Homo sapiens: one gene and its partner. The protein of the gene in region 1 purifies or fractionates together with the protein of each later gene. This does not show direct contact. Each region holds a gene or a part of one and is shown on either strand. Other genes may lie near its edges.

Region 1 (3,654 bases):
AGCTCTGCCGCCTGTTTCTCTCTGGCCAGCTCCATCATTTTGGAGATTTGCTGCAGGGAGAGGAAGTAAGCTTGGCGAGAAGCCCTTTGTTGTTCAGAGGGAGTACGGGGGGCGGGGGTCGGTGGAGGGGAGTCGGTGAGGGGGTTGGGTCGGTGAGAGGGGCGAATGGGGTCCATGGGGGGTGGGGTCGGTGGGGCTGGTGGGGTTGTCGCCCTGCCCCTCCCGGCCACCTCGGCCACGTGCTGCTCCTTGCGCTTCAGAACGCACTCGTACTGCTCCTCGCCCTGCCGCAGCAGCTCCAGCTCCAGCCTGTCTTTCAGCTCCCGCACGCGCCCGTCCACGCCCTCAGGGCCCTCGCCCGGCGCGGCTCCGGCGCTCTCCTCGCGGGGCAGGCTCCTGGGGAGGCCACGTGGGGACAGGCCCTGAGATCCTGCGCCACCCGCGCTGCAGAGGGCAGGGCACCGCCACGAGCCTTACCTCTTCTTGCGAGAGCCCTTGCCGGGACCGAGCTTGCAGGCCCCGACGCCCCCCACGCCCGGTGGCCCGAGCTCCGCCAGCTGCGCCGCGCCCCGCTGCAGCAGCTCCTCCCAGCGCCGCGCTCCGCGCCGCTCCAACTCTCGCAGCTCCTTCTCGTGCCGCCGCTGCAGCTTCACCACGCCCTTTAGCTCCCGGAGCTCCTCCAGGCTGGCGGTCCGCGGCTCTGCGGAGGCCCGGGTGAGGCGCAACACCGGCCAGGCCGTCCTGCCCGTCCAACCCCCAAGGAGCCCCGGACCCGCCCCAGGCTCATCCCCGAGATCACCGGGCTCAGCAGGCCTTACCCGCAGCTTCTTTCATAGCCTCTTCCCTGGCCCCGGCCCTGGCTGCTGCAAGAGCCACGGGCTGGGCTGTCAGGTGCTCTGGGGGGCCCCTTGGCTCCGTTCGCCTCCTCCACACCGCCCCCTGGGAGTCGCAGTATGTGCCCCCTGCCCCGCACTTTCCCTAGGTGAAATTTTTTAAAGGGAAGTGCCTGTGGGTGCAGAGGTGGAGGTGCCCCCAGTAGGTGTGCGGACCGAAGCTCATACCTGGTGACCCATTGCTCGTTGGGGCCAACGCCCCATTGACCTGGCTGGCAACTGGACTCGCCAGTGGGAAGGGCTTCTGTGTAGGGAGAGCAGGTCAGGAAGGTGGCTTGACAGCCCTCTCTCCCCGAGCCTGGGACTCGGCCCTCTCCCCAGCCTCTCCCATAAATAGGGCTAATCTCTGGTGAGCCCCTGGCAGCAGTGCAGGCAACACAGACCTCAGGCAGACCTCCCATGGCCTCCTTGAGCTTCACAGACTTCGTGTCATGGGCACTGAAGAACTTAATGGGGTTGGCGAGGGCCACAGTGAGATCTGGGTGGGTGCACAGGACATTACAACATAGTGTATATGGAGATGTGGCTGGAAGTCTCCCCTGTCCTCACCCACTCCAGGATGCCCCATCTGGATCCCACCCCAACTCTGGAAGCTGGCTTGATGGGAAGGAAGGGGGAACAGACACCCCGAGGCTCCTGGCATGCCATGGGCTCCTACCTGCCCAAGCACCAGGTATGTAGTCCTTCATCTCCAGGAAGATGAAGAGCGCAGGCATGGTGAGGGGCATGTTGCTCTCACTGTGCAGGCACAGGTGGTGGTACCCTGTGAGACAGGACAGGGTAGGCAGTGAGCCAGAGCCCGTTCCTGCCAGCACTGTGCACACACAGCCTAGGACCCAAGGGTCTGAGTCTGGCACTGCACCATCCTGGCTGTGTGACTTCAGCCAGGTTACTTTAACTCTCTGAGACTTTACTCATCTATGAAGAGGGGATGAGTGTCTACTCATGTGGTTATTGTGAGGATGAAGTGAGAATGTATTATAAGCCCTTAGCAAATTTTAAATGCCCATAAGTGTCAGCTACTTGAGAAACTGCCCCAGCCGTTTCAGAAAATTACAGCAATTCTGTTAGGTGGGCAGAGTTCCCGCCTCTCTTAGGTTCCTGGAGAGGTACTGTTCTGCCCTACTCCTTACAATGTGAGGGCTTAGGTAAGGCCTCACTCCAGGCCCCCTCCCAGAAGCTGCCCCACCCTGTGCACAGGCTCCTGCTGCTGATCTTGGAACAGTGAAGGACCCCACTCCTTACCAGAATTTAGGGCATTGATGGGGATGATGCGGTGTCCAAGAAACTTGTTGCCTTCCTCCATCACAGCCACTCTGAGGGAGGCCAGCTCAGGCATCAAGATCTGGGGAGAGTTGGGGACATGACAGGCTGGGAGGGGAGAGAGGAGCCAAGCTGACCCCCTCCCTGGCTCCAGAAGTCTCAGCATCAGTGTGAGAACATGGTGAGTGTCACCAGATTTGGTGAGGACAGACAGAGGGCACACTCTAGGCCATATACAAAGACATCCCCACAGCACATGCCATGGCTGGTTCCACACAGGGGAGGAGGGCTGGATTTGCAGCCCAAGGCTGAGGGGGCCTGGCACAGATAGCCCTTGACAGCTTTGCCAGTGGGTATCCAGTGGGGCAAAAGACTCCCATGGGAACCTCAACCCTGAGTGCACATTTCTGCCTCTAATCTTCACACACACACACTCTGCCTACCAAGTAAACTTCTGTAAACTTGGGTTTTGCACTCTTGAAACAGGAGGGCCCAGGGTGAGGGATGGGAAGAGGAGGAGGAGGAAGGTCAAGGAGCTGCCTTGTTTACTTCCTCTTGTCTGTAAGTAGAGGCCAAGAACTAGACAGACTCTGCCCTGCCATGCCCTGGCCCCCACCTTCTCAAAGACAAAGGGCTCCTCCTTCCAGACAGGATTGATGGAGTTAGTACTGGGTGACAGCTTAGTTCGATAGCGCCTCTTGGGGTCCCCAGGAAGGCCAAACAGCTCCACTTCTACATAGGTGCGCACGCTGCGTTCTGACAGGAACTGCCCAGAGATCACCTGGGGGTAGGGGCCCAGGAAAACCAGCATCAAATCCCCACCCAGGCTCTTCCCCAAGCATCTGGGGCCCCTGGCTGCCTAGAGCTGAAGCATTCGTTCTTGGGTGTTATGAAGAACCTCACTCAGCTCTGGCCATGAGTAGAGAGGCTGTGTAGCCCACGGGTTACAGCTAAGCTCTGAGGACCAGGGTGCTTCTAGCATGAAGGGAAGAGGTGGGCCTCCCACCTCCCTCCCTAGCCAAAGAGGGAACAATGCCTTCCCCCAGGACCTGGGGCTCCGGCTGCCCCACTCTGCCCACTCTTCCTCCCCTCCCCCACCCCAGCCTCAGCCCTTCCCGTTGGTTTCCATGGGGACCAAGTGGCAGCCTCCAGTGCTGAGGAGGAGGCAGTTTCCAAGGCAACTTGCTACTGCAGGAACTGGCTGGGGCTGAAGTTTCCAGGATATCAGGGGAGGGGGTTGCGAGTTGAGTGAGGGGTGGGCTCCTGTGCCCTTCTACTCAAGACCTCAGCCTCCCGGCCACTTGTGTGCCCCAGGGCCTTGCCGTAATGGAAAGGGTGGTGGCCACCACCACGTCGATGCGGTCCACTGAGAAGGGGTTGAACTGCTTGTCCGGCCGGCGCATGAACTCATGCTTGAGGAGGTAGCCGCTCTGCCCGTTGAACTCAAATACTGCCATGTTCTGCTGCATGGGCAAGTCTGGAGGGACAAGGACACTCA
Region 2 (3,654 bases), on another chromosome or scaffold:
AGTTTCTTGATTGTATAACTATACAACATAGCATAAACATTTATGAATTTTTCAAAATAGGTCAGCTTAATGTTTGTGTTTCATTTAGGAAGATAAAATGCTTTTTAACCATAGTAATTTCCCATCTAAAATACTTTTTTTAAAAGAAATCTTTATCTAGAAAAATGTATGTATGTAAAACATATTTATGTGATGCAATGTAAATATGTCGTGACAAAGTGGTATGTCAAACTTTATGTTGCTTTGCTTAGTTAAATAAACCTTCATTAAATACTTTCTACTTAGTTTGTATAAGTCATCTGTTTAGATGTAAATTGAATTATCTCTTGGTGGATGACATCTGACTGACACACATTGGCAATCAGTTATTTCTCCAGCAGTGACCAAATATGTAGCCAGTCTCATGTTTTCAGTATAGAAAAAATATATTGACATAATATTGATATTTTAAGTATTAAAATGAGATTATATTATAGAACCTGCTTATAAACCAAATGTTTTCTCTGTAGTGTCTTATATATTTCCTTCCTAATATGTCATAATTAAAATATTTTGGGCTTTTGCTTGGCCATTCTAACTAATGGTATGTTTTTGGTTTTATGTCAGCTGTGGAAGCAGTTACAAAAGGCAAGACAAAAAGAAATTAGGCGATGGAATGTTTTAACTTTGGCTTTGTTAATAAATTAAAAATTGAAGGCTAGTCCCATATATAGTTCTCTTGACTTTGTACATTTAAATTGAGTTAACCTTAGTTATGTTTTGTTTTCTTAGATAGTAATTCTTCATACTTTTTAAAGAATGGAGATAGAATCTAGCATATATTCTTATACACCCAAATATAATTACTTTATGTTAAAAAAACTAATGAAGCAATTCATTTATTGTTCTTTTGTTAAATAAAAAGGAACAAGTAGATAAAAAAATGCTTTGGAAAGCATAAAGTGCAATAAAAATGTTAGTTATTTTGTCATTTGTGGGTTTTTTTTCTTAAAGGCAGTGGATATAACTTCTTGTGGAAACTTTGCTGTAATTGGCCTCTCATCAGGAACTGTAGATGTATATAACATGCAGTCTGGCATACATCGAGGAAGTTTTGGCAAGGATCAAGGTAGAGAATTTTTTTCCTTGTTTTTTATTAATGTAGATAGATACAAAACTAGTAGTGAAAGCTGGTATGTATAATCTTTAAGTGCTGGGCATTTTGCTAAAGTTGAAGATGGGTTATAATCAACCCTATATGGCAGATACTGCAATTGTATCATAAGGACCATGTTGAAAGAGAAAAGTCATGGGTACTTAAAGAGTTACGTGGATATTATACAGATTAATTTTTTTTCTTCTCTCCTTTAAGCAGAAAATCTTAACAAACTTTTCAAACCTATGTTGTATCGATCTGATTTCTGTTTTTTTACTCGAACAGTATTAATAATTAAGAATCTTCTTACACCCCTAAAATCCAGATTAATTTCAAGATTTTAAAGGATATTTAAGTGGCACCTTACATATTTGAATGAAGGAATCACTGTGTGTATTGTTCAGAGAGAAACACTGCCAATTCTGATTTTTTTTTTCTTTTGACATCTACCTTACAGCTCACAAGGGATCTGTTAGAGGTGTCGCAGTGGATGGATTAAACCAGTTGACAGTTACAACTGGTAGTGAAGGATTACTCAAATTCTGGAACTTTAAAAACAAAATTTTAATCCATTCTGTGAGCCTCAGTTCATCTCCAAATATCATGTTGCTACATAGGGACAGGTAAACTTTTAATGATAATGGATTTTCTCTTTGATTCTTTTGGTAAAAGTCATAAAGTCACAATTTACCAAGTGGGAAAAATCAGACTCTTTAATAAAGAACAACATTTGGCTTAATTTCCCCCAAAGTGTACTTGATTTAACAAAATTCAAGTGGAGGTGAGATTTTAGTTCAAGGGTTTTTTGTTTATTAAAACTGGTGCATTTATCTTGCTAGTGGCATTCTGGGACTCGCCTTGGATGACTTCTCCATTAGTGTTCTGGACATAGAAACTAGGAAGATTGTCAGAGAGTTTTCTGGACACCAAGGCCAAATAAATGACATGGTAAAACAAACTCTAACTAATAAAACTTGACTCATTTCTACTTTTGTTTGGGTGTGTTATCCTTTAATAGCCTTAAAATCATTATATGAGGTGGTTATCAATTTTAATTTGCAGGCTATTTTTCAAAGATTTTAAAGGAAAATTTTGAATTAAAAGTTTAATATTTTTCAGGGAGTTGATGCGATCAAATTAAAGTATAAGTTTTAGAACTCATCTTTTTTTTCATTAACTCTAAACAAGGCCAAAGTATACTTTAGAGAATGAATGATCCATTGGTATATATGTCATTCTTAACTTAATATTAAAATAGGCTGGGAGAACTCATTTCTGATTTACTATGTATGGAATGAATTAATAGTAGAAGACCATTTCCCTGGAATATCTGGTATCTGGTTTATTTTAGTTTAGTGCTATTTCTAGAGTTTACATATCTTAACTCTGAAAGGGTTTAATTAATAAAAATGTGCTTAAGTTTACTATTATGTTCTTATAATGGGATATATGATATGGAAAGAAGTAAACTAGTTTAAATAGCATATTTCATTAAAAAGAACTTTTAAAATAAATTTGTCACTTGAGGACCATATTAAGTGTATATTATCATCTTTCATCAATTGCAGATACCTTGATTTGCTTGAAAATAGAAAAAGTAAAATAAAAATAAAATCTTAATACTTAGTGACGAACCCAACAGCTGCATTTACTAGTTCTCACACCAAAAATCAGAATTTACTCCTTTCCTTCAAAATTGAAGAAAAAAAACATGGTCAGGACATTGTGTTCTGCAGATAGGAGGCTGGCAAAATTATACATCAGCAGAATTTGTTTTGACAGCATCTGTAGAAATGAGGGTGGGATTGGGTTAATTGTGCTGAAATGGCACTTTTGAAAACATCTGTCAGTGTCAAGTTGCTCTTCCTATTTCTTTTTCAAACCTTACTTTCAACTTGTATATCTCGAGTTTCCCTGCTCAGTAATAAGTTATTCCGGTTAGTCAAATCTGTGAGCATTTATAACATGACTTTACCTCTCAGAATCATTCTTTCCCATCCTTTACTATCTGTACCACCCTTCTGTAAATTGATCTATCTATAACTTGAGATTTGAGTTCCCATTGTATTACTGCAGCCTGAGGAACAAATCAACATTTACGTATCCCAGTATCATCTACTAATTTAAACTGATGGATGAACAGTCTACTACAACTGTAAACTTTAAAGTTTTTCCTTTTGGGTCATCTTTCACCTGTGATCTGGTTTGTGCCTCACAACCCTTAGGTACTACAGGCAGAGAGATCTATTATTTATCCATTTTCATAGCTAGAAAAAATAATGGGTGGCATAAGTAGTTTATTTAAATTTATTTTGAAAATCTGATTATTATAGTTTGTTTAGAAATAAAGCATTATTAAAAGAGAAAAGATTTTTAACTTAAGCTTCAAGAAAAGTAAGCCCTTATCACACACATAAACATTGTCTATAAATAAATAGAAGATTGTGATTTGAAAATTAATGCAGTACACTTTTTTAACTTTTAATAATTCATTTAAAAGTCTAATCTTTATCCAGATT

The links. Proteins that work in one complex are often made in the same cells at the same time.
Region 2: the proteins of PLCB2 (region 1) and WDR36 purify together in Homo sapiens (affinity purification with western blotting, with the first as the bait; one study listed by BioGRID). This does not show direct contact.

The regions. Positions count from the first base shown.
Region 1 is NC_000015.10:40,290,788-40,294,441, forward strand, and holds part of PLCB2 (1-phosphatidylinositol 4,5-bisphosphate phosphodiesterase beta-2), read right to left. Parts: intron 3,634-3,654; coding exon 3,479-3,633; intron 2,938-3,478; coding exon 2,773-2,937; intron 2,239-2,772; coding exon 2,139-2,238; intron 1,657-2,138; coding exon 1,552-1,656; intron 1,372-1,551; coding exon 1,277-1,371; intron 1,138-1,276; coding exon 1,062-1,137; intron 979-1,061; coding exon of another isoform or gene 864-978; coding exon 819-863; intron 701-818; coding exon 478-700; intron 397-477; coding exon 231-396; intron 51-230; coding exon 1-50. UniProt on the Homo sapiens protein: The production of the second messenger molecules diacylglycerol (DAG) and inositol 1,4,5-trisphosphate (IP3) is mediated by activated phosphatidylinositol-specific phospholipase C enzymes.
Region 2 is NC_000005.10:111,109,196-111,112,849, forward strand, and holds part of WDR36 (WD repeat-containing protein 36), read left to right. Parts: intron 1-993; coding exon 994-1,108; intron 1,109-1,592; coding exon 1,593-1,758; intron 1,759-1,974; coding exon 1,975-2,083; intron 2,084-3,654. UniProt on the Homo sapiens protein: Part of the small subunit (SSU) processome, first precursor of the small eukaryotic ribosomal subunit.